Linked DNA regions of Homo sapiens. The gene in region 5 interacts genetically with the main gene of each other region. Each region holds a gene or a part of one and is shown on either strand. Other genes may lie near its edges. The genes, in order: CNOT1, DCTN2, YTHDC1, GINS4, GFI1B, MTOR and ATP6AP1.

Region 1 (4,349 bases), on a different chromosome or scaffold from region 5:
CAGAACAGGAGAGTCCTATTCATTAATCTTTATACATGAACATTTAACAAGATGCCTGCCAAACACGCACCAATAAAAATGCTTATATAAGGCAGCCTAACAAAACAATGTAACAAGAGGCTATGTTTAAAGGGACTTTAAGTTTATTTTCACACTAAAAAACTTCAGTCACATACACCAAAACTGATACTGCACGATTCTGGATAATTCTTTCCTTTATGCTTTTTTGTATTTCCTGCACTGAGCAGATAATGTCCAATTAAAGATAAAATAATCAGCTAGACCTGTGAATAAATATACTGACAGAACATTCCTTCACTATTGTGGCTTGAAGCATTTTTACATTTTTGTGATCAGATTGTAGCAAAAAGCACAGAGAACTCTACTCTGAAAACTGGCAGGCTTCACTCACCCTCAGTGTCCAAGTCCACAGCCAAATTCTGGAAGATATCCATGTGTGCTGAGTGAGTGATGGTGCTCATTGAAGGTGTGCTGCCCTTGTTGTGGATGTGCGCAATGGCCTGAGTCCCGACATAGAGCACCAGTGCATTGATGAGCTGGAGGTTGTAGCGATTCCCAGGTTCATTGGATACCTTAAAATGAGCAAAACAGAACTCCTTATGCTTACTCCTGCAGAGGACCAATTCTAGCACCAGTATTTCTAAACCCTTCTTACACCTTCATGGAAAGGCCAAACATTTATTGTGATTCACTTGCTTGAATTTGTGAGGTTATTTAACAAACACACAGATGCTCCAAAGGTGGTTGTATCAATAAGAGAAATGTGATTTCCCTCAGGAAGCCGAAGCTCAAGGCACAGCTCTAAAGTAAAGTTTATAAAATCAAAATATGCACTGTGCCAATTAAAGATTTGGAGAGAAAGTTGTAGTTGCATGGCATATACAGACTGTAAATATATAACTTTCCAAAATATCCTATAGAGAAATGTAAATCAGCATCCAGGTATTCAGAAAAATCCTAGGAGTACCAACAGCTAATGACTGTCTGTGGTCTACTCTTCTAGTGCTGTCTTGTCCAAAGCTGTAGCAAAATATCACTGATTAAATGAACTAGTAAAATACGTAAATCCAGTTAATCAACCTCACCCAATTGATGGAAATGACAATAAAAGACTAACTCCCAAATGGACCACACACAGGACCATACATAGAAAGTGCTTTATATGGAAGACGTAGATGAGTTTTAAGCCAAACCAATTAACCTGTAGGTTGCTGCGCAGATCAGACAGGAAAGTGACTGGTGATCGAGTTTTAAGATAGGAATCCAAATCCTTTTTGAACTGAGGTGGCATTACTCCAGTGAAATTGGTGAGAATCCGGGGAGCAATGTTAATTTCACTCAACATGTCCACCTGCCACAGATAAAATGCAAGAATCACAAGCAGAATCATTTTTATTAGTAAATTACATCTATGCTTAAGTGGTGGGACTGTTTTTCTAAAACTATATACACTATAAATGCCTTGAAGAGCACAGCTGCCACATTTTATTAATCAGTCTTTCTTTCTTTAGAAGAATCTTGGTTCAAAATGATAAAAATTTCCCACTCTATAATGTATTTCCTTCCCAGAGGCAAGATACCTTTTGGGCAAAGGTCTAATTTGCACAACTAACTGATTTTTCTTGGACTTCGGTTTCAAAATAATAATCCGGAATAAGATTCCTCACTCACCAAGAGTCTTTGAAAAGAAGCCCCAGCAAGACCAGACATCACACTTACTCCTTAAAAAAAAAAAAAAAAAAAAAAAAAATTGAAGCCGGGCGCAGTGGCTCACGCCTGTAAACCCAGCACTTTGGGAGGCCGAGGTAGGCGGATCACCTGAGGTTGGGAGTTCAAGACCACCCTGACCAACATGGAGAAACCCCATCTCTACTAAAAATATAAAATTAGCTGGGTGTGGTGCCTGTAATCCCAGCTGCTCGGGAGTCTGAGGCAGGAGAATCGCCTGAACCCAGGAGGCAGAGGTTGCAGTGAGCCACAGCTCGCGCCATTGCGCTCCAGCCTGGGCAACAAGAACGAAACTCCGTCTCAAAAAAAAAAAAAAAAAAAAAAATGCATGTGTCAGAAAGAGTAGAGACTACATCTAAACTATAGCTGGGCACTTCTAGTGGTGTGCACCTCTAGTCACAGCTACTCTGGAGGCTGAGGCAGGAGGACGGCTTGAGCACAGGAGCCTGAGGCTGAAGTGCACTATGTTCACACCTGTGAATAGTCACTGCCCTTCAGCCTGGGCAAAACAACGAGACCCCTGTCTCTTAAACAAACTATAGTAGCCATGTCAGGGTGGTGAGATTTTAAGTGGTCCTCTCTCTCCTTTATTCCAACAACTTACAAAAAAATACAGTGGGTTCTCCATACCCTTAGGTTCCATATCTAATTAACCTCAAATCGAAAATATGGGGGGTGAAGGTAGAGGTAGATGATGGGGTCAATAAAAAATAATACAACAATAAAGGCCGGGTGCAGTGGCTCATGCCTGTAATCCCAGCATTTTGGGAGGCCAAGGCAGGCAGATCGTGAGGTCAGGAGTTTGAGACCAGCCTGGCCAACTAGTGAAACCCCGTCACTACTAAAAATACAAAAAAAAAAATTAGCCAGGCATGGTGGCGGGCACCTGTAGTACCAGCTACTTGGGAGGCTGAGGCAGGAGAATCACTGGACCCCAGGAGGCGGAAGTTGCAGTGAGCTGAGATTGCGCCACTGCACTCCAGCCTGGGTGACAGAGTGAGACTCTGTCTCAAAAATAAATAAATAAATACAAATAAATAATAATACAACAATAAAAAACACAAATTTTAAAAAGTTATTAATATAGTTTAAAATAGTTATTTCCATAATAGCATTACACTACATTAGGTATCATAAGCACTACAGATGTCATTTAAGGGGATATGCAAAGGTTATATGCCACTTTACATACAGGACTTAAGCATACTTAAAATTTGGTGTCCCAGTGGGTCCTAGAACCAATCCTCCAAGAATAGCAAGGGACCAAGGAACAACTGCACAAGTGCACAGACACAAAACTGTGAAATATGGAGACTATGGCAGGGCGTGGTGGCTCACACCTGTAATCCCAGCACTTTGGGAGGCCGAAGCAGGCAGATTACTTGAGGTGAGGAGCTCAAAACCAACCTGGCTGACATGGCGAAACCCCATCTCCACTAAACACATAATTAGCCAGGTGTGGTGGCGAGTGCCTGTAATCCCAGCTACTTGGGAGGCTGAGGCGGGAGAATAGCTTGAACCAGCGAAGGGGAGGTTGCAGTAAGCCGAGACTGCACCACTGCACTCCAGCCTGGGTCACAGAGTAAGACTCTGCCTCAAAAAAAGAAAAAGATTACAAAGGTCTGTTTGTTCTGCAATTCTTTGCCATGTGGGGCACACCCAGCAAATGACTGCCCCAACACCTAAGCTGTGGTTCTGTAAATAGAGCTAAATTTAATATCAAAATTAATATGAAAACTAGCAACTAGAAAAATGCTGTGAACCAATATTCACCAGCAACAGCAATAGCAACAATATCATACCTTCTATCAGGCTTAATAACATTATTTCCTTTAAAGAGTACCCTTAACTAATAGTGTGCGTGTTATGTTGGGTAGGAAAGTGCTGAACAGTCTACTTATCAGAGAAAGGACTGAAATATTAAGACATAAGTTTTCCTTTAACTAGTTGGAACCTTACCTTTAGATTAGGAGTGAATGGGTCGGGGAGCCTCATGTTTCTTGGAAAGGCACTCAGGATCAAATTTCTTAACTGGATACAATTAGGTGGGATCACATCACAGAACCCATAATGGTAATCACAAAGGAACTCTGGGAAATCATGCAAAAGAACCAGCAGCACTCTTAAAGTGCCCTATTTTTAAAAAACAAGAAAAATATTTCCACACTAAGGAAAATGGAGTAACATTTTCCTATTGTAACTTAAGCCCCCCACCCCCCTCAAAAGAATGAAGTATACTTTAGTAACATTTCTTAAAAAGTTTTAGGCTTTAATTAACATTATCACAGATGATTTATCAAATATTTCCATTTAGGTATCATGAAAAACTAGGCATCAAGAGTTTACAGGCTGAAATGAATATGCTAGAAGAGGAGACTGGACAAAAAATAAAAATACAATGATGTAAGCGTCTATCTTCAGAAGCTAAAAAAAAAAAAGAACTAATGAAAACCAAAGAAAGTAGAGTAAAAGCATATAATAAATTTTTTAAAGTACTGAAAAGGGAGAAAATCAGGGCCCAAGTTAGTTATTAGAAAAAATAAATTGATAAACCCTAACCAAGGCTGACAGAGAAAACACAAAAATTATTAATGTCAGGA
Region 2 (4,349 bases), on a different chromosome or scaffold from region 5:
GGATTCCTTTCCCTGGAATACATACCTAGCCACAATCTTAAAATCCTAACCAAAGGTAGATGGGCGAGGGAAACATAGAGAATGAGGTCGGGCGCGGTGGCTCACGCCTGTAATCCCAGTGCTTTGGGAGGCCGAGGCGGGCGGATCACGAGGTCAGGAGATCGAGACCATTCTGGCTAACATGGTGAAACCCCATCTCTACCAAAAATACAAAAAATGAGCCGGGCGTGGTGGCAGGTGCCTGTAGTCCCAGCTACTCAGGAGGCTGAGGCAGGAGAATGGCGTGAACCCGGGAGGCGGAGCTTGCAGTGAGCCAAGATTGCGCCACTGCACTCCAGCCTGGGAAACAGTGCAAGACTCCGTCTCAAAAAAAAAAAAAAAAGAAAGAAACATAGAGAACAACGAATCAGGAATCAAAAGAGGAATCAATCAAGAGGAATCAGAGGAATCAGAAGCCTTCCCAGCACCCTCTCCTTGGAGAGAGGCAGGAAAATCTCTAGGGTCACATCTCCCCTTGGCTTCCCAACCAACACTGTATCCACACTTACTTTGGCAGCTTGAGAGAACTTGTCCTGCTCAGGCCGAGAATGTAGTTCATAAGTGACAAGGCTGCTATCTGGGGGGGTCCCAGTGGTTTTTCCCCCTGATCCCCCTTTGCTGTTCTTTGTTGCTTCCAGCTGCAGTAGTAGGCGCCTAGTTAGGAGACCGAGTAATAATATCATGACTGGAAGGAGAAGGGCCAGTCACTCTCCCTCACTTTTGCCTCATAATCAGCATTAAGAAACATCTAAGCCACTTCTCTGCCACTTAGCACCCCTGTCAGTAGCTGGCTGAGTCCATCCACAACCCCAGTCAGCAATGATTTTTCAACAAAGTAGGGTACCCACTTAGCCAGGGCGCCATCGGGGTCGGTAAGGTTGATTGCAGCATCTGGTCCCAGCAGCTTCTCCAGGTGGGAAGCAACCAGCTGCTGCTTCAGGGCTGCCAGCTGTTTAGCCAGCAACACAGGGGTCAGCTTCTCCTCTGTGGCTGACTCCTTCACTGTCGTCTAGTATGAAAAAAGGTAGAAATCGGGGGATGGCAAGAATGAATCAAGAAGCAAAAAAATAGGTCAAGCCCTTTAAAGGTAGTTGTAGCTGGAGGTCACTGGGATGGTTTTCAGCATGACAGACTGCCCACCTGTATGTAGCACTGCATACAGATGGATGCATATTTGTAAACTCTGGAAACCTTAGCCCCTTTATCCAGGAGCTTAAGGAATCTTTCTTTCTTTCATTTTTTGAGATGGAGTCTCGCTCTGTCACCCAGGTTGGAGTGCAGTGGCATGATCTGGGCTCACTGCAACCTCCGCCTCCGAGTTCAAGCAATTCTCCTGCCTTAGCCTCCCGAGTAGCTGGGATTACAGGTATGCGCCACCACACCTGGCTAAGTTTTTGTATTTTTTTAGTACAGATGGGGTTTCATCATGTTGGCCTGGCTGGTCTTGAACTCCTGACCTCAGGTGATCCGCCTGCCTCGGCCTCCCAAAGTGGTAGGATTATAGGCGTGAGCCACCGCACCCAGCCAGGCAGGGAATCTTTCTCTTCTTGCTTGAGGTCTTCCTCTACTGTGTAAGTCACAGCAGAGAAGGGAGAAGAGAGTTTGTAGTTACCTTGATTTTTTCAACTTCAGTTGTCAGCTCTTGGACCTCATGCAGTAGGCGCTGGTACTTTTGCTGGGGTGTCTCCTTCACTCCCAGACCCTCTCCAAGCTAGAGAGCAGGCACAGAGGGTAATGTTATATGTCTCATTACAGGGAGCCTCAAGAATTCATCCACACCCTGGGCCTAAGTCATAAAGGTATCATATCCAATTGAGAATCCACAACACCCTAGTACCAAAGAACTGAGGACAGCTAGAGGGCTGGAGGCTCTCCAGAACAAACAGCAGTAGGGCAGAGTTTCCCTGGCTGCATCCTGCTGCTTCCTCAGGAACAGAGGAGGAACAGAATCCCGCCTGTATCCCTTGATCTCCCTACTACATGTCTGCTAGATAGGGTCACTACACCATTCCCATCAACACACACACACACACAACAAACCATCTCATATTCTCCAGATTCATATCCTGTCCTCTTGGTTTTTCCAATACGATCTGAGAAATCTGCCAAGAAAAGAAGATGGAACTGAGGGCCTGATCTAGGCCCAAGGCAGTCATGGTCTCAGGTGACTGTGAGGGCTTCCATAAAATATCTCCATGAGGGACCCCTTCCCCCAAGCACAACTCACTAAGACTTTAGGACAGGAAACCACTTCTCATGCTTATCCTCCAGTCTTCCCCCCACCCAGCTTCCAGCCCAGTCTCACCAAGTCCCTTTGTCCCCACTCTCTTGTCCTTGAACTTGTCATAGGCAGCATTAGGATTGACAATGATGTGTTCCACACTTGTGCTTGTCAGCTCCTCCTGCAAGAACAGGTAGTTTAGGCCAGGGACACACTCATTCCCACTCTAGAACTTACTCTACCCCACAAAATCCCCAAACCATTAGGTGACTGGGCCCTACTTGTCCAAGGGGAAAGAAGGGTGGCTCTATTCCAAGGCGCCTACCCAGGCTTAACCTAGGAAACTGAAGCTTCCTGGTAAATTTGGAGCCTCAGTTGTATAAATATTAACACCCTCATTCAACTGGGAGCAGAGGGAGCATAACCTCCCCACCCTCTCTGTACATAAGCCTTCCCATCCCCCCATGCTACCCCTCCCAGTTGTCTGGCACACGCCATGCACTCAAGGCAAGAAACCAACCTGACCTCTTTTAACCTCCCCCTCCCAAAAGTAAATCTTGCCCGCTGAGCAAGTCCATTTTAATGCTAACCTCCCATCCTTGCTAGAAGGAAAGAGGAGGGAAGGCAGATAATCAGGCCACTAACACTGAGTGTGAATATTAGGACTTTAAACCTGTTGAAGGTAAGACACAAGCTCTTAGTACAAAAAGAAGGCCGACAGAGGGCCTGACCAGAAGCCTGATTTCCAGGCTGCCATGAGGCCAGCGAACTCAGGGACAGGGAGAAGGGGCAAGGGCTTACTGGATTATCTTTATGGGACATCTTAGAAGCAACAAACATAGGCAATATCTGCTTGCCAAGAGTATCCATGGGCAAGAGCCACATGTAAGCTCTGAAATGGAGATAAACCAGCATCTCTTCAGAGACGCTGCAGCACCTGATTTTTCTCCCTGACTCCTCTGCTATGCTTTAAGCACTGAAGCTCTTCCAAAAACAGGGGACACAAGTAGGCGGTGAAAGAGACTTCACCCTAGAAACTGAAGCAGAGAGGTTCCCTCCTTACTAGATATCTACATGCTGTTCAGATTCCAGTGACAACACCAAGACTGCACCAAGCACTCCTGACTGCATGTCCCTTTTTCAATTGTCAGAAGCCTGACAGCTCCCAACAGAGTACTGATGGAAGTAGGAGGGAGACCCAGGAGTCCTTTTCTGTTGGGGATGACATCTCTACCTTCTATGGGAGGAAGGCAAAATGAGCCTTCCTTCTTTCACCTAGAACAATGGTTCTCACCCCAGGCTGCATGTTAGAATCACTTATAATTTTTTTTTTTTTTTAAATAGACAGCCGGGCAATGGTGGCTCAAGCCTGTCTGTAGTCCCAGCACTTTGGGAGGATCCTAATTCCAAGTGATCCACCCGCCTCGGCCTCCCAAAGTTCGGCCAAGGCGGGTGGATCTCAGGAGTTCAAGACCAGCCTGGGCAACATAGGGAAACCCCAACTCTACAAAAAATATAAAATAGCTGGGTATTGTGGCACGTGCCTGTGGTCCCAGCTACTCAGGAGGCTGAGGTGGAAGGGTCACTTGAGCCTGGCAGGTGGAGGATGCAGTGAGCAGAGATCATGCCACTGCACTCCAGCCTGGGCAACAGAGTGAGACCCTGTCTCAAAAAAAGAAAAAGAGAGAGAGAGAAAAGAAAAAAAAAAAAAAAAAAAGGCCTGGGCCCACTTCTAGAGATTCTAATGAATTATTCTGGGGTAGGGCCAGATATCCAGGTGATTCTAACCTACAGCCAGGACTGAGAATCTCTGCCTGTGTGTAGGTATGTGGGGAGAGGGTGTGAGGGGGACATGGTGGGACATCATTGAGAAAGAAAAGCAGATAGAAGGAAGCTCCTTCCTTCATCTCTGCTCTGCTATTAGAGCAGGAATCAGTGTGGGTGACAGCTTTAAAAATAAGGGAAGAAGGAAGGAAAGGACAAAGTATCAACTTTGATCTTTACCTCTTCCTCAGGGAATTACTGGGCAGAGGGGTAAGAGCTATAGATCAAGGGAAAACAAAAGGACTCAATGTCCCATATGCAAGTG
Region 3 (4,349 bases), on a different chromosome or scaffold from region 5:
ACAAAAAAATGTCTCAAAGATAGGCTAGAAAGCTGCTCTGATTCTCACAAATAGGCCCACTCTTCATCTTAAGTGGGAAAATAAAAAGATGTTTATTTGGCCCCATACAGACTCATCAACCTAAGTAGGGAGTGGAAAAAAATTCTAACTTGCATATCCTACTTAGTTTAACAACAAAACTACCTTTCTAAGGCTATCAAACTTATATGCATATGAATTATGCTTCCAACACTTGCCAGAAGACAATTCTGCTTTATAAATAAAAGTACTATTGGGGGGGGTGGGGAAGCATTTAATAAACTCAGCCCCACTAGTTAAAAACCCAGAAAACTCAAACTAAAACTAGAGTCTTTTTTTCACTGGTCCTGTTTTGAAGCCATCAAAAAAAGCTTTCACATCAATCTTATCAAATAATTAACAGAATCAATGAATAAAGGACATGTCTGCTACATATCATAACATCTGGTTATTCTTTGCTAACATCACAATAACCAGAGGTAAAACAATTTATCAGTTACTAGCTTTAACATTTGGTAGAAATAAAAACAAATGACTAAATGAGATTACAGCTTATCAGCTAACTTAATATACACGATCTATCCTAGAAAAATTGAGTAAGAATACACAAAAAGTTCAGAAATATCTATTAACAATATTAATTACATAGCATAATTAAGATCTCAATATGGAAAGAACATAGCCTAGGTACTACCTAAAAGGAGTTCTATTTGTAGGCGTTTGCCTTAAGCAGTTTGTGATTTGATCAGTAAAAGAAATATATTCTATCTATATAATCCAAAGGGGCATAATCAGGCATTTTTAATAAAAACAAACAATTATTCCAAAACAGTCTGCAGTAAGAATATGCAATGGTCCGTCAATCATCATACTCTGGTCTCCCCATATTTAAGTTACCTACAGAATTCTAAGTAGTTCCCTCACACCTTTGCCTCCTTGTGCACTTACTACTCGTTTATCTCTGTATCTTGCTTCATGTGGTACTGGATGATGTCCTGAGTAAGGGGGATGAGCTTGAGGAGGTGGAGCATGGTGCTGATAGTAAGGATGGTGTGGAGGTTGTTCCATTCCTGGGTAAGGGGGCTAAAAAAGGAAAACCATTTACATTAAGAATCTACCAACACCCTTGTAAACAAGCGATTCTTAGAACCCTTCATCCAAAACACCAATCCCAAACAAGTGAATCTGTACTAGACATTTACTTTGATGGCATTAAGGTGTTTCAAAATATGCTTTTTGTCGAAAATTACACATCTTCTAAGATTTAACATGTTTATGCTTTTCTACTCCTATCATATAAATAACAATGGAAATAGCAAACACTTACATGGTGCTTACTGTGAGCCAGGCATTGTTCTAAGCACTTTACTAGTCTCATTTAATTCTCACAGCAACCTTATGAGATAGATACTATTGTTCCCAGTTTACAAAAGGGAAAACTGAAGCAACAAGGAGTTAAGTAACCTGCTTATAGTCACACTACTGTTAAAGTGGTGAAGCAGGCATACGGCATCAGGCATCCTAGTTCTGCAGTTGGTAAACTGGTTAACCACTTTGTATGTATCTGTTCTTAGAAACATCAACAGGCCTGGTGTGGTGGCTCACGCCCATATCCCAGTGCTTTGGGAGGCTGAGGGAAAAGAATCCCTTAAGCCAGGAGTTGGAGACCAGCTTGGGTAACAGAGTGAGACCTTGTCTCTATAAAAAAATTAGCCAGGCACAGTGGCATGTGCCTGTAGTCCCACCTACTCAGGAAGCTGAGGCAGCAGGACCACTTGTGCCCAGGAGTTCAAGGCTGCACAGAGCTATCATCACACCACTGCATTCCAGCCTGGGAGACCGAATGAGACCCTGTCTCTCAAAAAAAAAGTCCAGGAGCAAATTAACTTTTAAATGCCATTTAAAAAATGAATAAAGGGTAAATTAAAGATTACTTTCATAGTTACTATCAAGATCATATATTATTAAATTTTTAAAATTTCCTAGAATCTAAAGGGGAAAAGTCTCATAATCATCTGCATATAATAGTATAAAACTGTATACCTTAAAAGTGAAACAAAAGTCAGATGAAGAGGCCATATAACATATTGCATTTAAAAAAAGACATAAATTAAAATGTAAGAAAACAGTAGAAGCTACTTCAACTTCCAGGTTTTTATTTCTTGAAAATTAATGCTTCAGCTATCTTCAATATCTTAAAATATACTCTAAGACAATTCAGTTTTCTTAAAGGAAATAATTAAAAAGCAGGAATAATCAGGGTTTAATTAATCTTATTTTACACAGAAAATTTAGTGAGTATTAGATCAGGCACTATGCTAAACTTAACATGTACTTTGTAAATTTATCTTGACAATGAAAATGACACTACTACATTAAATTTTAAGCTATACCAGGACAGTCATGATGTCAATTTCATTCACCATGATATAATCAGAACAAGCACAGTGCCTTGCACAGAGTAAGTACTAAATATTATATTTGATAAGACAAAGCATCAGTGAATGCCCATGGAATTTTACAGATGAGGAAAACTAAGAGTTGTATTAAGAAATTAACCCAAAGTCACAGAGTTGGGAAGAAAAAGAAATATATCTGAACCCAAGCGGACTTTGCACTACTAATTACTACCATAATACACTATTACAGTTCTCAAGCCTGTACTATTAACACAAATGAGCTTTTAGTCTTTAGTTTGAAAGACAGCATACAATTATTTATCATCAAAAATCTGTATTTTAAGTCTTTTTGAGATGGAGTCTCCCTCTGTTGCCCAGGCTGGAGTGCAGTGGCGCAATCTCGGCTCACTGTAACCTCTGCCTCCTGGGTTGAAGCAATTCTCCTGCCTCAGCCTCCCCGAGTAGCTGGGAGTACAGGCACACGCCACCACACCCAGCTAATGTTTTTTGTATTTTTAGTAGAGACAAGGTTTCAGTTTCACCGTGTTGGCCAGGCTGGTCTCGAACTCTTCACCTCAGGTGATCTAGCCGCCTCAGCCTCCCAAAGTGCTGGGACTGCAGGTGTGAGCCACGGCGCCTGGCCAGTTTAAGTCTCTTTAATGAGTAACTGTAACAATCATATTCCGAGTAAGCACCTGAAATACTAGAACTGCAAATTAAGTTATGTAACTTATAAAAATAGAATAATACAAACCATTCCTTGCCAAGGTGGTGGTGGTCCCATGTTATGAAATTCCCTCACATAATCATTGTAGGACTAAAATAAAAGATGATAATGTCAATATAATTAAAAATTATCACAGAACTGCAAAATAAATCAGAGCCTGATTTTATCCACATTAAATAGATAAAATGAAATGCTTACCCCATTTAAAAACACATCTCGGCGAACTCCTGAAAATCGTCTGTTGGGAATAAGATTTGTGAAACTAAATTCAGGTAATTCATAAACTAGTTCCAAGAATGTAATTCAAAACTAGGCAAGAGTGAACCCGACTTACCTGTCCACTTCCTGGTATCGTGGATCCTTTAAATACCCTGTTCAAACATCAAGCATTTTAGTAAATCAAATTTATATTTTTCTTTTATGGCATTATAATTAAACCTTCCTTACCACTCGTTTCAATTCTTTCCATGAAATATGTACTTTAAGTGATGCTACTACTGTATTATCCCATTTTCAAATTTTCTTCTCAGATTACATGATAATCTAGGAAATAACTAATGATATCATAGAATTGTAAACTGCTAGAGAAGCTTTCAGATAGGTATCTTCTATGTTCACACTCCAAATCTTGCTAATCAGAAAATTTCTTCCTTCTGCTTCACAGGGAAGGTAAGGGCAGAGGAACTATCTTGAGCACACTATGACAGGACTTCCTTAAAACAAATGTTTACTTTCCACCTTGGGTATATGTAGGTCTTACCAAGAAAACCACAGATAAGCTTTTTAAAATGTAAACTTAAGGGGGAGGGGGAAAAAATTGCAAAAGTTGCAAAAATGAAGATGTATACACTGAAAATGAAAAATCGATGGTGGTTAGAAAAATATTCTTTCCCCTGCTTCTTTTAATAAGAACCCAACAAATTAAAATGTAAAAACATTTGAGTAGTCATGTTACTGGGGAAAAACTATTTTCACTTTCTACAACAGGACAACCTATTTTGGAAGAATGAGGCTAATCAAGCCACTTGTTACATAATAGTGCTATAATGATCACTAACATCAATCTCCTAACTGCCTAAGTTTCACAAGTGTATCACTGACTCTCTTCAAATACATGATATCCCTTCTTGAATATAGTTTGCTCTCTTAAATTTCAGTAAGGGATAGATTAATTGAAAAGCTACATTTAGATTACATACCGAGTA
Region 4 (4,349 bases), on a different chromosome or scaffold from region 5:
CAAAAGTCAAAGAGAAGGATGTGGTTAACATAAAGAGGGTTTACACAACCCTCCCGAGGAAGGACATGTGGCCTGGAGGTGGGATAGGGTGGGTGGAGAGACACACCATAAGACACAGGACAACGTCTCTGAGACACCCTTGCAGGCAAGCTATGGACCTGGGGCTAGGGGACGGCTTGGATTGGGAGACTCCTAAGTGGCTGAAAAAAGAATGCTGACTCAATGGGTAGATGTCAAACTGTAGGGAAGTCTTTTGTGAAAGACCCTTGCCACAGTCCAATTAATAATCACATAAGGTTTTTTTTTTTTTTTTTTTTTTTTGAGATGGAGTCTCATTGTGTTGTCCAGGCTGGAATGCAGTGGTGTGATCTCAGCTCACTGCAACCTCCAACTCTCGGGTTCAAGTGATTCTCCGGCCTCAGCCTCCCAAGTAGCTGGGATTACAGGCACCCACCACCACACCCAGATGATTTTTGTATTTTTAGTAGAGATAGGATTTCACCATGTTGTCCAGGCTGGTCTCAAACTCCTGACCTCAGGTGATCCACCTGCCTTGGCCTCCCAAAGTGCTGGGATTATAGGCGTGAGCCTGTAACTGGTCATCACCAGCTTTGGTAAGCATGCCATCAAAAACCTTATGTGGGCCAGGCACAGTAGCTCATGCCTGTAATCCCCGCACTTTGGGAGGCCAAGGTGGGTGTGGATCACCTGAGGTCAGGAGTTCGAGATCAGCCTGGCCAACATGGTGAAACCCTGTCTCTTCTAAAAATCAGCTGGGCCTGGTGGCAGGGGCATGTAATCCCAGCTACTTGGAAGGCTGAGGCAACAGAATCACGTCAACCTGGGGGGCGAAGGTTGCAGTGAGCTGAGATCGCGCCACTGCACTCCAGCCTGAGCAACAGAGTGAGACTCTGTCAAAAAAAACAAAAAAACACAACCAAACAAATAAAAAAAGGGGGTTGATGACATAAAGTATTAAGAGACAGCTAATACATTAGGTGACAAGATCAGCATCCAGAGACAAGGGAAATGGCCCAATTTAATAAGATAAAGCTTAAGAGAGATAAGTATCAAGCCCTACACTTAAGGAGCCAAAACCTAAGCCATACAAGTAGAGGACAGTGACTGGATGGGGTAATTATCATCTTAAAAGGGGTTAGTGTCCACGTGAGTGAAGAATGAGCTCAGGCAGCGTACCTGTCAATATGCTAATGTGATAAATATGCTAATGTGATGTGGTTGGCATTACTACCAGCTTAATAACCAGAATAAGAGAAATGATCATTCTGTTTTTCACAAACTTGGTCAAACTACAACTGGGATACTGTGTTTAGTTTAAGATAGTGTAACTTAAGAAGGATAGAGACAAACAAGAACCCTTTTAGAGAAGAGACCAGGAGAGTAAATGGTTTGAATGGCTAAAATGTATGCCTGAGAGAAGACTTCGAGGAGACTGTGGGCAGTCTTCAGATAGCTGAAGCATTCTCATGTAGAAGAGATAATTTATCTTATTTGTAATAACTAAAGAGACACATAGAACCAAATGAAATGTCAAGGAAGTAAGAATTTCTCAGAGTTATAAACTAGGAATGTTTTGCAATTTCTTTTTTTTTTTTTTTTGAGGCGGAGTCTCGCTCTGTTGCCCAGGCTGGAGTGCAGTGGTACAATCTTGGCTCACTGAAACCTCCACCTCCTGGGTTCAAGCAATTCTCCTGTCTCAGCCTCCTGAGTAGCTGGGACTACAGGCGCCTGCCGCCACGCCTGGCTAATTTTTTTATTTTTAGTAGAAATGGGGTTTCACCTTGTTGGTCAGGCTGGTCTCAAACTCCTGACCTCAGGTGATCCACCCGCCTAGCCTCCCAAAGTGCTGGGATTACAGGTGTGAGCCACCACGCCTGGCCTGCAACTTCATTTTTGTAAGTTAGATAGCCACAAAGCTGTAGGTGAATGTAAGTCATCCTGGTTCATTTGACACTGACGTTGGCCATCTGACAGACAAAATAATTTTGGAAACAAGTTCTCCTCTAGTCAGCATTCACTATTGACCAATGCCAACAACTCTCCCTTTAGCACTGCCATGCTGTAACGCAAGGGGGAACCACTCACTCGGCAGGTGAACAGACTAAAAATGTGTGCGGTGTCCCCGCAGTGGGCCACACACGTTCCTCTGTGCTTCTGTGGAGCAATCTCTCGCTCTCCTTACAGTTTAGCTACATGGATATTGGGCTCTTAGCAGCATCTTCAGGTCCTGGACCCTCCTGGGCCCCAGCCCAAGTTTTCCCCAGGACATTCAGTCTGCATTACAGACTGTGCTGTCTCAATCCCTCCAGGTATCTCCACGTCAAACCTTCATGAGGCGACACCGCAAGTAGCTGCTGAGGACGTAGCGGATCCTCTCCATCTCCATTTGGTGGATGCTGACCTTCAGGTCCTCCCTTTTGGCTCTCCTGAGATTTTCTTCCTATTAAATGAGAAATTAAGGTTTATAAAAAACATGATGTTCAACCATCATCACCGGCAACGTTGAGGACCCAGACTATGTTTCAGTCCAAGGAAAACAAAAATATCATGTGAGTTTTCATTTTATCATTGTATAAAGTACAAACAATAGTCATTTACTTTTAGAAAATGACCATTTGAATAGAATCTGTTCAGCCAGAGGCTTCCAAAAGAACTCCAATCTGATTGTAAGGGAGATAGTACAGCACACAGACGAAACTTCCATTGGGTCTAAAAAGCAGTATTAAAACACCAGCTGAGAAACTGAAATATCCACATTTTACAGCTTCTCTGAAGTTGACAATGATTTATGCTCAGATCATCTAGGCCAGGGACCACAAACTCAAATGTTTGCAGGGGCCAGGTGGGGAGGCTACAAGAGAAGGGTGGGTAGTCAGGGGCTGTGGGGAGCAGGGAGTACATGGATGGACAGCTCTCATGGGACTGCTCTGGTCAACTGTTCTCATGCAGAAATGCAGGATTTTAGACTTTTCATGGGAAGCCAATATCCAGATATTTACAGGCACTCTCAAGATTGATAAACATAGATAACTAATTCAATGTTGTTTTAAAGAACTGGACTGTGAGTGGAGCCAAACAAAACAGATTTGCTACCAGACCACAAGCTCTCAGTGTGCTGACCAAATGCTTTTACCTTTCTCCTCCTTTGTCAACCCAAGACAAGCGACTCTTACCATGTGCTCCAGCTGTTCCATGACACATTCTACAATCTCAGGCTTGCTCTCCAGCAGCTCAGGGGCAAACTTTTCATTCATCCAGGCCTAAAAGACAAATGCCAGAAAAAGCAAGCATCACCCACCACAGAGCTAAACAACCCAGTGAGTCAGCCCAAGTCCAACGAAAACCAGGGATGGCGCAGGCAAGAAAACTGTCTGCCCACCAACTGGAAACATTGAAGGTGTTTTGAAGACAAACTACGTTTAGCGATTGCTTTCTCGTGTCTTGTTTTAGTTGGGAGGCTGTGTTCACAACCTTCTATTCAACTGACACTCATACAAACCCTTGCTTACTTCAGTTAGTGTGACGCTTGGTGCTGAGAGTGACACCACCTGGTGTTCAAATAGTGCCTTTGCCAGGCAGCCCGGGCACACTGTTCCCCCAGGCAGCGCCACCCCATGTCTATTTAGAGAGAAAGCAATAACCCACCAATCCACACAGCTCTTCATTCCTGAAGCTCAGAGCACTTCACAAATATTTTTCATTCATCATCATCATATCTCAGAGAAAATGGATATAGTTATCCTCATCTGATTGAAAAAATACAGATTGAGTAATTTACTAATGGCCCCAAAGTATACAGGATCATAATAGAAACAGGCGCTCATCTATTATGGAGTTTTGGAGCCAGAGGTTAAAGCTCTAATTTATGACTCAGGCCCAGCTGTTTGGTTCATTTTAGAGACTTCCAAGGCTTAGAGAACTGAAATATCCCTAAGTGACTGAGGAAAGCTACACTTATCTTTCAATTACAGGAAATGTAGTTTTAGCATAGCTCAGAATTATATGCTGACCAGGCTCAACTTATTTTTTTCTGACGTCCTTGAGTGTCTGCTTCTCCCCATGATCACCGTCAAGACACATTACCAAATGCTGGGTATGGCTACAGTCATAGGCATTTGTGCAGAGCCTGAGCATCTGTAACAGTCCTGCAGACTGAAACAAACAAACAAAAAAAACCTGCATAATGCATGGGAAAACATCATATTTTCTGGAGGGCTTATTAGGAGCAGCATTTCTTTTTGATTGATTTTTATTAAATATTGAATAATTTTTATTTATTTTTGAGGCACAGTCTCACTCTGTTGCCCAGGCTGGAAAGCAGAGGCATG
Region 5 (4,349 bases):
GGTCCGTTTGCCTCTCTGTGGCTCAGTCTCCCTTCTACAAAGTTGGATGTGAGAGAGGGGATCTGGAGGCCCCTCCTTGCCTCATCTAGAGGCTGAATAGCCCAGTGGTTAAGAGCTGGGAGTTGGCCGAAGCTGGGTTTGAATGCTGGTTCTGATATCTACTTGCTGTCTGATCCTGGAAAAGTGACTTAACCTCTCTGAACCTTAACCTTTCATCTGACTCTGGCACTCATGCCTGTCAATTGCTTAGCACAGGGCCAGGCACGTGGTCAGAGCTCAATGAATGGTGATGAGGATGAACGTTTTGAATCCTTAATCCCACCAGAGCCCCAACATTCACAGCACAGAGAACGCCCAGAGCTGCCAGTGAGTTGAGAGGGAGTGCGGAGAGGAGGGCCCAGGTGCCCACCACACCCCCCGCTGCCCACCTTGTTGCACTTCACACAGTGGTACGCATCCATGCCTGGGGAGTAGCGGAGGCTGAAGTCCAAGGCGGGCTCAGTGCTGGGCACAAGAGGACTGCCGTACAGGCTGACGGAGTGCTCCAGGAAGGCTGACTGCATGGTGGAGGGGGCCTGCCGGTAGCTGTGGCCATAGGTTGTGGCCAAGGTGTCCCAGGAGAAGCTAGGCTTGTAGAATGGGGGTGAGTCGGACAGTGGAGAGTCCCCATCCTGGGGTCGGGACAGCACAATGGGGCCCTCTGTGGAGATAACGACACAGGCCTGGTTACTCATTTAAACACAGGGGGTTGGGCACAGTGGCGTGGCTCATGCCTGCAATTCCAGCACTTTGGGAGGCTGAGGCAAGTGGGTCACTTGAGGTCGGGAGTTCAAGACCAGGCGGACCAACGTGGTGAAACTCTGTCTCTACCAAAAAATACAAAAATTAGCCAGGCGTGGTGGCTCACGCCTATAATCCCAGCTACTAGGGAGGCTGAGGCAGGAGAATTGCTTGAACCTGGGAGGCAGAGGTTGCAGTGAGTTGAGATCGTGCCACTGCACTCCAGCCTGGGCAACAGAGTGAGACACTGTCTCAAAAAATAAAATGAAATAAAATAAACACAGGGCACCCCCTTCCCACCACCCTCTACCACACACCACTACCTTCATCACCTCATGTGGAGGGTTTCAGGGTGTCAACCCAGATACTTACTGCCAGGAATGTCTGGGTCCTCACTGTGGCTCCTCAGCTTTTCCAGCCCAGAGACACCCCCAGCCTCACTCCACAGTGCCCACCTCACTCCCTGCACGGACCGGCCCAGCTGCTGCTTCTGGCCTCTTCTCCCACCTAGCCCACATCCGGGAATTAGCTCCCTGTCTGAGAGGCCCAAGCAGAAGCCACAGAGCCCGGGCTGCATCCAGTGACTTCGTGGGTCCTTCCTGACTCCAGGGCCCCAAGGGGCCCTGCTGCAAGAGTCCCTTCATCCTTCCTCCCCTTGGCACTCCCTGGGGAATGACAGTGGGTCACAGCGGGGTACCTGGTGCCGGGGCCATCCTGGCCAAGTTCTGGTCCTGCTCCAGCTCCGGCTCTCGTTTGAGGTTGGTCCAGTCCAGGCACTGGTTTGGGAATAGAGTGCTAAGGACAGGGCTGTTGCTTGGAGCCTGGTCTCTGGGCACTGTGGGGAGATAGGACCATCAGCATCAATAGCCACGGTTTCTGGGAAGCCCAGAGGGAGCAAGGAGGGCACGCCCTTCCTAGGAGGAGGAGGCCCAGAGAGACAGCCACGTGCCGCTGCTTCTGGCGGCTCACACTCCCGGGCTCTGCCCAGAGCAGGCGGCGGCAAGAAGAGGCCAGGAGGAGACCCCGGGGAAGACTTTGGACCAGTCTGTTTTTCTGAGCAACCCAACTCCAGCCCTAGACTGGGCCTCCAGTGAGGCCCCACATGCCAGTAACTAAGTACTGGCTCCAACCTGACACTCTCGTCTCCCTAACAGGGCAGAAGGGATGAGGGCATCACTCATTTGTCTACTCCTTTCATCTGCAACCCACAGTTACTGCACTCCTGTTTCCAGACTTGGAAGAAGAGGCTGCTGCAGGAGGGACGCTGCTGCACCCTCATCACGCAGAGCAGAGAGCCCCCCGTGGGTGCAGCAGGCGCCAGCCCGGGCTCTGACTCACCCGGGGTAAGGGCAGGAGGCCAGAGCGGTTCATCTTCCTGCACACGGGGCTGGTGGTAGGTGTGAGCCTTCTTGCTCTTCACCAGGAAGGAGCGTGGCATTTTCAGTGTGCACCCCACACCTGCAAGGGGGAGGGATGGGAGCGGTTAGGAAGGACAAGAGAACAATACCCCTCCATATCTCAGAACCTCCTCCTGAGATAAAACACCAGCTATACTGGGTTGAACAGTGGCCCCCAAAGTTCATGTCCACCCAGAACCTGTGAATGTGACCTTATTAGCAATAGGGTGTTTTTGCAGATGTAATCAAGTTATGATGAGGTCATTCCGGGTTAGGATGGGCCCTCAATCCAAGATGACTCGTGTCCTTATAAGAAGATGGAAATTTGGACCCAGAGACACAGACACCCAGGGAGAACGCCGTGTGCCGACAACAGAGCAGAGAGTGACACTTCTATCAGCCAGAGAATGCCAGGCAGTGCCGACAGCCGCCAGAACTCGGAGCTTCTATCAGCCAGAGAATGCCAGGCAGTGCCGACAGCCGCCAGAACTCAGAGAGGGGCATGAAACCCTCTCCCCTGGCGTCTGCAGAAAGAACCCACTTTGCGGACACCTCGATTTTGGATTTCTAGATCCCAGAACCATGAAAGAATAAATTTCTGTTGGTTTTAAGCCACCTGTTTGTGCTATTTTGTTACGGCAGCTACAAATCCTAACTTCCCTCACTGCTCCTTCACCAGGAAATGAATGCATCGCCCCCTAGAAAACGCTCAGACAAGCCTGCTCCCATTGGCATGACCTGGGCTGCAATGGAGCAGAAAAGGAAAGGCAGGGACTGGGGTCTCCCTCTGTGACACACAGTGGACCCCAATTCTAGAAAGCTACATTTGGGTACCAGTGAGATTCACCTTCAGAGGCCATAGAAACGGGTGGTCTGAGCTTAGGTTTTGGAATCAGTGGTTCGTGGGTTAGAATCTCAGTTCACTTGCTGTGCAATTTGGGACACACACTTAACCTCTCTGGGCCTATCCCCTTTGCTGTAAGTGGGGATGTCCAGGCTTGCAGTGCTGACAGGTGCATCACAGGTGTTCAGTGTCTATCACTGGGGGCTCTGGCAGAGAAGCTGCAGCAAACGAGGGGACATTGCCAATCCACGTGCTCCTGCAAGCCGCAAGCCACAGCCGCCAGAGCACGGCTGCGCCTTGTCCACAGCCCTGGCCCAGAGTCTGTTCCCTAGAGAGACAGGGGCTTTCTCTCTCTGAGGAGTGGGGTGTGGGGACTCAAGACCTGAGAGGACCCCCAACTCCACTGCACCTGGAGGCCTGAGGCTTCATGGACACAGGAGAAGAGGCGAACAGCCCCCAGCTTCCGTGGGCAGCCCAGCATCACTACCAACCCCACCAGTCAGGGAGTGGGAGAAGAAACCAAGGACCACATCAGTCAAGGGACCATCCCAGGCAGAGTCAGGGAGTGACAGGGCTGGACCAACTTGACCACCCCAGGACTCCTGGCTTCCCCTGCAGAGCCCTCTGGAGCTGAGAGCCCTGCCTGGCCCCCAGAATGGTTCACATCCCTGCACTCAGCCTGTGAGGTTCCCCCGGGCACTCTGGAGAGCATCTTCTGGTGGTCCTCTATCCTTTCTGCCCCCACGCTGCACCCAGGCCGACACCAGGCCCATGCCTGAGGCGTCAGAGGAGTCCCACCCCCCCACCCCTTGGGCCAGCCGCCATGCAAGGCTGCAGGGGTGATAGGGTCCGGAGAAGGCGGGAGAGGGATCACAGCTGCTTCAGAACAGCAGTGAGGGCCTGGGTGATAAGGCCTTGGCCCAGGAGCAGGGTGGGAGGTGGGAGATTAGAGAATGCAGCTTGGAAAAGGGCCAGGGACTCACCCCTTCCCCAAGGAGATGAACCACAGCCAGGCAGAAGAGGGACCCGACTATGCCCAGGCCTGCTTCCCCCTGGCCCAGAGCCTGGGGGCATCAAGAGTTTGGACTGGGGGCTCTGCACAGGGGGCCAAGCTCAGGCCCAGCCCTTGCCTGCTGTAAGGCTCATCACTGAGCCTCAGTGCTCATATCTGCTAAACGGGGATCCCAATCCAACCACATGGGATGGTGGGGAGCGAGAAAGGACCTTTATCCATCAGGAGCGAGTGTGAGAGGTGCTCAGCATGTGCTCCCCCGCATCCCAGCACCCAGCCCACTGCAGGTGCATTCAAAGGACGGGGTAAGCCCTGT
Region 6 (4,349 bases), on a different chromosome or scaffold from region 5:
GCTGTTAGTATAGTGGTAAAGAAAACATAAAACACATCTGCACTTCCAGAACTTATGTTCAAACATTACAAGCATTCTGTGTTTGTAAACAACCTAGGATAATGAGCACTGAGATGTTTAATCAATTTTGCTTTCCTTCCTCTGTCCTCAGAATTTCCTAGCTAGAAGAGTGAGCAAGCCTTCTCTGTTCCTGGTGTGTATGGCTCTAAGATGACAAGAGACTGTACTCCTGAGAGAACAAAACTCTGGTACCAATGAGAGTTCTCGGTTTGCTTTTTTCTCCAGGTCCTGGTTCTCCGTGAGCTGGCCATCAGCGTCCCTACCTTCTTCTTCCAGCAAGTGCAACCCTTCTTTGACAACATTTTTGTGGCCGTGTGGGACCCCAAACAGGCCATCCGTGAGGGAGCTGTAGCCGCCCTTCGTGCCTGTCTGATTCTCACAACCCAGCGTGAGCCGAAGGAGATGCAGAAGCCTCAGTGGTACAGGGTAAGGAGATGGCTCCATTCCCACCACTAGCAAAGCACATCTGCGTAGAGAATCACCTGGCCTAAAGGGCAGCCACAAGCCCTTGCCATGGAGCAAGAATCACGTTTTGGTTTGCTCTCAAATGAATTTTTTTTTTTTTTTTTTTGTGATGGAGTCTTGCTTTGTCGCCCAGGCTGGAGTGCAGTGGCGCAATCTCGGCTCACTGCAACCTCCGCCTCTTGGGTTCAAGCGATTTTCTCCCACCTTAGCCTCCCGAATAGCTAGGACTACAGGCGTGTGCCACCACGCCCAGCTAATTTTTGTAATAGAGACAGGGTTTTGCCATGTTGGCCAGGCTGGTCTCGAATTCCTGACCTCAGGTGATCCACCTGCCTTGGCCTCTCAAAGTGCTGGGATTACAGACATGAGCTACCGCGCCTGGCCTCCAATGAATTTTTTATGCTCAGTATGAATCAATAGTTACTTTATTGCATTTTATTAAAGCAAACATCTATTGATAGCCATACCATTATTCTATACATTATTTTATGTATGACTAAGAATGCAAATATGCCAATTAAACTGTGACTTGGTACCTCTTTCTTTTTTTTTTTTTTTTTTTTTTTTTTTGGAGATGGAGTCTTGTTCTGTCACCAAGCTGGAGTTTAGTGGTGTGATTTTGTCTCACTGTAGCCTCTGCCTCCTGGGTTCAAGTGATTCTCCTGCCTCAGCCTCCCGAGTAGCTGGGACTACAGGCATGTGCCATCACGCCCAGCCAATTTTTGTGTTTTTAGTAGAGACAGGGTTTCACCATATTGGCCAGGATGGTCTTGATCTCTTGACCTCATGATCCACCTGCCTTGACCTCCCAAAGTGCTGGGATTACAGGCATGAGCCACTGTGCCCGGCCAACTTTGTACCTTCTTCTTATTAATAATTAATTATAAGACATCTCAGCTGGATGCTCACGCCTGTAATCCCAACATTTTGGGAGGCCAAGGCAGGAGGATTGCTTGAGCTCAGGAGTTTGAGACCAGCCTGGGCAGCATGTGGGATCCCGTCTCTACAAAAAATAAAAAAATTAGCTGGGCCTGGTGTTACACGCCTGTGGTCCCAGCTATTTGGGAGGCTGAGGCGGGAGAATTGCTTGAGCCCAAGAGATCAAGGCTGCAGTGAGTCATGATCATGCCACTGCACTCCAGACTTGACAACAGAGTGAGACTCTGTCTCAAAAAAAAAAAAAAGACATCTCTTTTCAGAGATGTTAAAATACGGAAAAATAGGTGTCTCAAAATCAGTGAGATACAAATGATACTAATTTAGAAAGTGCCATTTCTCTCTGCTCTAGTATAATGAGGCCTGTGCTGATTACTGCTGCAGAGGGAACTTATCAGTGAGTCTTATATTAGAAAAAGAGCTCTGAACATGGGATTGGGAGATGCGGGTTCCAGTCTTGCCTTTGCTGTGTGATCTTGGACAAGTCACTTAAATTCTTTGAGCCTGTGTTTTTAGCTGTTAAATAGGGATGATGATGGTATCTTCCTCAAAGGCTTATTATGAGAATTGAAGCTGGGGCTGGGCGTGGTGGCTTACACCTGTAATCACAGCACTTTGGGAGGCTGAGATGGGTGGATCACTTGAGGTCAGGAGTTTGAGACCAGCCTGGTTAACATGGTGAAGCCCTGTCTCTACTAAAAATACAAAAATTAGCCAGGCGTGGTAGTGTGTGCCTGTAATCTCAGCTACTCAGGGGGCTGAGGCAGGAGAATCACTTGAACCCAGGAGGTGGAGGTTGTGGAGAGCCGAGATTGCGCCACTGCACTCCAGCCTGGGCAATAGAGCAAGACTCCATCTCAAAAAAAAAAAATTGAAGCTGAATTAAATAAAAGAGATTGATCAGTTAGTTTTGTTGATGACTGGCACTAGGCACTGAGCAGGCGTGGTAGCACCTCAGAACCCCCAGTGTAGATGGGATGGGCCTGTATTCTTTCTGGGTTTGTACTCTGTCTCTAATGAAGGCACCCTGTCTCTCTACATAGCACACATTTGAAGAAGCAGAGAAGGGATTTGATGAGACCTTGGCCAAAGAGAAGGGCATGAATCGGGATGATCGGATCCATGGAGCCTTGTTGATCCTTAACGAGCTGGTCCGAATCAGCAGCATGGAGGGAGAGGTGAGAAGCCACGGCAGAGGGGAGTCCAGGCTCCCCGTGTACCATTCTGTGAGCGAGGCAAGGCGAGATCCATGTCCTCATGGAGCTGACATTTTGTGGCAGGAAACATAATAAATAAGTAAATAAGATAATTTCAGATAGCAGCAAGTTCTATGAAGAAAGTCAAACCAGAATAGAATAGAGAGTGATGGGGAGGGGGTGAGTGGAGGGTCAAGGAAGGCCCTCCCTGAGGTGGTGTTATTTGACGGGGGTCCACATGACACGAAGGAGCTACCTTGCAGCAGGCCGGGGGACTGTGTTCCAGGCTGAGGCTTTGAGGTGGAAGAGTGTGAGACATTGATGAAACAGAAGAAAGGGAAGTATGGCTGGTGTACCGGGAGCAAGGGAGAGGGAAGGAGGGGCCAAATTAATAGGCCCACGGTTCACAGTAAACACGAGCTTTCACAGGGGTAAACATTGGAAGTATGCACACAGGCGAATAATGTGATGTCATGCGTTTCTAACAATCACTGACTGCTTATAGGAAAAAATGTGGGGAAAGGCAGGAATGAAAGCAGGGAGACCAATTAGGAGATGTGTTGGCTTGAGAAGGTGGATTTAAAAGTGCATGGATTTTATTAGGGAAACAGCCTTCAAGAGAATATGGGGAGGAAGCTGGGAGAAGCATCGGACCACAATGCACATCTGACCCTGAGTAAGCAAGAGGGTAAAATTCGGATAGAAGTGTTCTAGCCTACTCTGCAGGGCCACCGCGGGGTCCTCAAGCCAAAGTTGGCTGTCAGAGAGGTCTGTGTCTCCCAAGAGCAGGATAGCCTTAGCATCCCTACTGTGTTCTGTCATTGGCTGGGAGCAATGGGTGACGTTGGCACAAACTTAGTGATGGGTTTCAGAGCAGCAGCTGGGGCCCTTGGTTATGCGCCTTGTAGTTGGAGGTTGCATTCTCACGGCTGCCAGACGAAGCTATTACGGTAGTCTGGGTGAGTGACAGTGGTGGCTTTGACTAGGAGTGGTGGCACAGATACTGAGAAGTAGTTGATTCAGGATATATTTGGGAGGTAAAGCTCCATCTGTGAGACTGGCTGTAGAAAATGAGCTGTGAAATTTTACCCCGGGGATTCCTGCTTATAATAGACACAGTGCTTGTTAGATAATAGCCATGCCCAGATGTGGGAGCAGCGCATGCAGCAGTGTGCAGAAGCAGGAGGAGTCTGGCTTCAGATCCCCACCGCTCTGATGACTGTGCGACTCAGGCAAGTTACCTGTTTAGCCTCATTTTTCTCCCTTTGGACAGGGGCTCTTACCTACCTCATTGGGCTCTTGTGCGGTTTCTATATGATGTTGGCTCTCTATATCCATGAGTTCTACATCTGGATTCAACTAGTCATGGTTCACAAATACCCAGGGCTGGGTGCAGTGGCCCACACCTGCAATTTCAGCACTTTGGGAGGCTGAAGTGGGAAGATCACTTGATCCCAGGAGTTCGTGACCAGCCTGGGCAAAAGACGGTGAGACCGTGTCTCTACAAAAAAATTTTTTTAACTTTTTAAAAAGAAAAAAAAAATCAAGGAAAAAACAAACAATTTAAAGATAATACAAATTTTTAAAAATACAGTGCAACAAATATTTACATAGCATTTACTTTGTATAAGGTGTTATAACTAACATAGAGATGATTTAAAGTATGTGGGAAGCTATACATAGGTTATATGC
Region 7 (2,853 bases), on a different chromosome or scaffold from region 5:
CTGGCTCCCTGCCCCACCTGCGACCCACAGTGATGGGAAGGTCACCTGTGGTGGCACAGTCCTCCCCAGCCTAGTGCCCTTGCCTGGCAAAGGAGTCATTCCAGAAGGAGCCAGTCAGGTTGAGTTCCTGCACCCCAAAGGTGAGGGGAGTCAGGTCCTCCCACTGGTCCTTGTACGCCACAGAGAAGTTTTGGGCCCAGAACAGGATCCGGGGAGCGGTGTCATTGTAACTCACAGGAGGATGGATCACAGGTGATACTGGCTGTTTTTGTAGCAGCTGGCGACCTAGCCCTCCGGCCACCACGGCTACATCACGGGCCACCTGCAGAAACACCCAACCAGCCTTCTTTCAGCAGCCCTGGGAGAGTGTCACACTTGAACCCAATTGTCGTGCCCTCCTTCCCCTCCCAACAGGACACCCTGTCCACTATCTCAAAGTCCCATCAGCCAGAGGAGACCTTTCCTCCAGGAAGCCTTCCCTGATGCCCCCTAAACCCTGATGACATTCCTAGTCCCTCAAACTTAGGGTCATTTAGACTTAGTGTCCAAGTCTGCCACCCACAAGCCTCACAGGACGAGATGGAAAGCTGCCCCTGGAATGGGGAGGCAGGACTTGAGTGCTCATCCTAGCCCTGCCCCCAGAGTCAGCCACTCCAAATAGTCACACCACAGGGGTTCTGTGCCTCATGCTTCCCCTATGCTGGGCCTCCTGGGCAGCCTACCTGTGGCATACACTCCCCACCTCCAAGCAGACTCACCACACTGCCTCTCCCTGCACGCCCCAGAGCCCCTGCTGGAAGGGCACATACCCTGGAAGGGCGGACCGCTGTGAGGGCCGCTGTGTATGGGACATCTTCGGACTTGAGTGTGCTCAGGACCTGCCCGATGACCTCATCTGAGGGTCAACAAGGAGAGCAGAGACTCAGGTCACCAGGCACCCTGCATAAAGAAACACTCCCCACTGTCTGCTTTAGAAACCTTCTAGACCATCTGAAAGTGGTGTGTTTACTTTCCACTGAGGATCCTTAGGAGCAGCTACTTCTCATCCCACCCCCATTCCCAGCCTCCCCCAGAGACAACTGTGGCTTCAGTCATCGATTCCCTAATGCCAAGCCCTACCTATGTGACATAAGAAAATACATATCAATACAGAAAACTCCACATCCACCCATGAAAGGTTCACGACTGCCTTTCCATGGGGAGTGACTGTCCTTTATTGCAAATAGATGAGTCCCCAGAATTGTTTTTCCAAATGTCTGCAGTCTTATTAAACCCATAACTCTAGGATTCACGCTGCCTGCACAGAAACTGGCTCCACAGCCTCCAGCACAGAGAGCCGCCCCCCTCTGCCAAGTGGGGTCTGGCTGGACAGGGTCTTCTGTCAGGTGGTCCCTGGCTGGTCCTGGGAGCCAGCATTTCCCTGCTCCACTGCCAGCTGCCCCGAGAAGCAGGCGGGCCACCCTGGGAGTGAGGAGGCCGAGGAACTGCAGGCCAGCTCTCTCTGTGGCCCCCACCCAAGGGCTAGATGAGGACGTGCATCCTCCCTGATTCTACTCACCGTTGCCTGTGAGGACTTCCCTGGGTGCCATCAGACCAGAGCTATGGAAGACAAACAGAGCGCCAGAGTCCTCAGGCGGCCTGGACCTGCACTGCCCACTACCCTTCCCCGACCCCAGCTTCTCCTCCCCACTAGCCCCACGCACCAAGCCTGCACACTCTTACCTCAGTGCCCCCTCCTGGAAGCCCATCCCACCCCGAGGCTTCTCAGTCACACTCAAGTCCTGGCCACCTGCTCTGTGACAAGGGCCTGGCTAGGTGAGAAGGCTCCCCACCCGCAGGGCTCACATCTGCCTCATCTCTGGAGGCCCAGCTCAGTGCTAGGCACCAACTCCTGAGTCACAGAAGAGGCCCTCCCCTCCTCTTCTGGCCACACAGGGCACCTTCTGGAAGGGCTGTGAGGGGGTGGGGAGTACTGGCATCTTTAGCCAAACGGTGCCACCACATGCCATAGCCCAGGGCCTTGCTGCTCTCTGGGCCCCGAGGCTGGTGGCTGGGCCATGCGGGCAGTACCTGGCTGTGTAGGGCAGGCGAATGAGCAGCAGAGCAGGGAGGCTGGCATTGAGCTTCAGCTCCCGCAGGGTGGCCAGGTCCACATGCAAGGGGCTGGCCCCGAGCTTCTCCTGCAGGTAAGTGGTCAGAGTGCTGACTGCATACCAGTCGACGGCAGGAAGCACCAGTGAGGAGGGGGCCAGGTCCAGGGCATTCTGGGGACAGGGGAGAGGCAAAAGGTGAGTTAGCCAGGGGCCAGTGGGCCTGGCCCAGCCCCCCACACCTCTCTGGCAGCTCTCCTCTGGCAAGCCATACCCATAAAGGCTCACCAAGAAAATGGCCCACACCCCAGCCCCTGACATTCAGGCCCCAGGCCTTTCTACCCCAAAGCCAGCGTCTCTGCTCCCTAAGAGTATGAGGTGGCTTTTGTTGTTGTTGTTGTTTTTGGGGGGGATGGTTGACCCAGAAGAGACTCAGACCCAAGTAACCCTGATATGAGGTCAGAGTACAGTTCTTATGCTGGGAGAAGGAGCACAGAATGTCCCCCATGGCCCCTGGCTGGGAGAGGACTCTCACCTCTAGGTTAGAAAAGGCGCTGTCCTGCTTGTTTCCAAACACACCGCCATATGCTGTGAAATCCTCAATGCTCAGCTATTAGGGAAATAGGGGAGACATCTGAGGAGGTTTGGCAAGTGATGGGGGCCAAGGCAGGGGACAGCCACCTTCCCCGTGCATTCTCAGGGCCAGCAAAGTCTCACTGAGAGTCAGGTTCAGTATGGTGGAGCACAACTGTGTGTTGGTGGG

The links.
Region 1: changes in GFI1B (region 5) and CNOT1 together harm fitness less than expected from each alone (positive genetic interaction), as found in Homo sapiens cells (one large-scale study listed by BioGRID).
Region 2: changes in GFI1B (region 5) and DCTN2 together harm fitness more than expected from each alone (negative genetic interaction), as found in Homo sapiens cells (one large-scale study listed by BioGRID).
Region 3: changes in GFI1B (region 5) and YTHDC1 together harm fitness more than expected from each alone (negative genetic interaction), as found in Homo sapiens cells (one large-scale study listed by BioGRID).
Region 4: changes in GFI1B (region 5) and GINS4 together harm fitness more than expected from each alone (negative genetic interaction), as found in Homo sapiens cells (one large-scale study listed by BioGRID).
Region 6: changes in GFI1B (region 5) and MTOR together harm fitness more than expected from each alone (negative genetic interaction), as found in Homo sapiens cells (one large-scale study listed by BioGRID).
Region 7: changes in GFI1B (region 5) and ATP6AP1 together harm fitness more than expected from each alone (negative genetic interaction), as found in Homo sapiens cells (one large-scale study listed by BioGRID).

The regions. Positions count from the first base shown.
Region 1 is NC_000016.10:58,524,767-58,529,115, forward strand, and holds part of CNOT1 (CCR4-NOT transcription complex subunit 1), read right to left. Parts: intron 3,883-4,349; coding exon 3,709-3,882; intron 3,340-3,708; exon of another isoform or gene 3,157-3,339; intron 1,373-3,156; coding exon 1,223-1,372; intron 594-1,222; coding exon 413-593; intron 1-412.
Region 2 is NC_000012.12:57,533,405-57,537,753, forward strand, and holds part of DCTN2 (dynactin subunit 2), read right to left. Parts: intron 2,442-4,349; coding exon 2,345-2,441; intron 2,142-2,344; coding exon 2,080-2,141; intron 1,751-2,079; coding exon 1,652-1,750; intron 1,049-1,651; coding exon 888-1,048; intron 694-887; coding exon 549-693; intron 1-548. UniProt on the Homo sapiens protein: Part of the dynactin complex that activates the molecular motor dynein for ultra-processive transport along microtubules. In the dynactin soulder domain, binds the ACTR1A filament and acts as a molecular ruler to determine the length.
Region 3 is NC_000004.12:68,315,348-68,319,696, forward strand, and holds part of YTHDC1 (YTH domain-containing protein 1), read right to left. Parts: intron 3,516-4,349; coding exon 3,479-3,515; intron 3,407-3,478; coding exon of another isoform or gene 3,383-3,406; coding exon 3,343-3,382; intron 3,235-3,342; coding exon 3,172-3,234; intron 1,102-3,171; coding exon 967-1,101; intron 1-966. UniProt on the Homo sapiens protein: Regulator of alternative splicing that specifically recognizes and binds N6-methyladenosine (m6A)-containing RNAs.
Region 4 is NC_000008.11:41,535,292-41,539,640, reverse strand, and holds part of GINS4 (DNA replication complex GINS protein SLD5), read right to left. Parts: intron 3,282-4,349; coding exon 3,195-3,281; intron 2,571-3,194; exon of another isoform or gene 2,462-2,570; coding exon 2,348-2,461; exon of another isoform or gene 2,331-2,347; intron 1-2,330. UniProt on the Homo sapiens protein: Required for correct functioning of the GINS complex, a complex that plays an essential role in the initiation of DNA replication, and progression of DNA replication forks.
Region 5 is NC_000009.12:132,984,548-132,988,896, reverse strand, and holds part of GFI1B (zinc finger protein Gfi-1b), read right to left. Parts: intron 2,239-4,349; 5' UTR 2,219-2,238; coding exon 2,119-2,218; intron 1,616-2,118; coding exon 1,478-1,615; intron 701-1,477; coding exon 429-700; intron 1-428. UniProt on the Homo sapiens protein: Essential proto-oncogenic transcriptional regulator necessary for development and differentiation of erythroid and megakaryocytic lineages.
Region 6 is NC_000001.11:11,252,129-11,256,477, reverse strand, and holds part of MTOR (serine/threonine-protein kinase mTOR), read left to right. Parts: intron 1-285; coding exon 286-486; intron 487-2,504; coding exon 2,505-2,639; intron 2,640-4,349. UniProt on the Homo sapiens protein: Serine/threonine protein kinase which is a central regulator of cellular metabolism, growth and survival in response to hormones, growth factors, nutrients, energy and stress signals.
Region 7 is NC_000023.11:154,431,677-154,434,529, reverse strand, and holds part of ATP6AP1 (V-type proton ATPase subunit S1 precursor), read right to left. Parts: intron 2,701-2,853; coding exon 2,626-2,700; intron 2,265-2,625; coding exon 2,071-2,264; intron 1,600-2,070; coding exon 1,559-1,599; intron 896-1,558; coding exon 810-895; intron 323-809; coding exon 84-322; intron 1-83. UniProt on the Homo sapiens protein: Accessory subunit of the proton-transporting vacuolar (V)-ATPase protein pump, which is required for luminal acidification of secretory vesicles.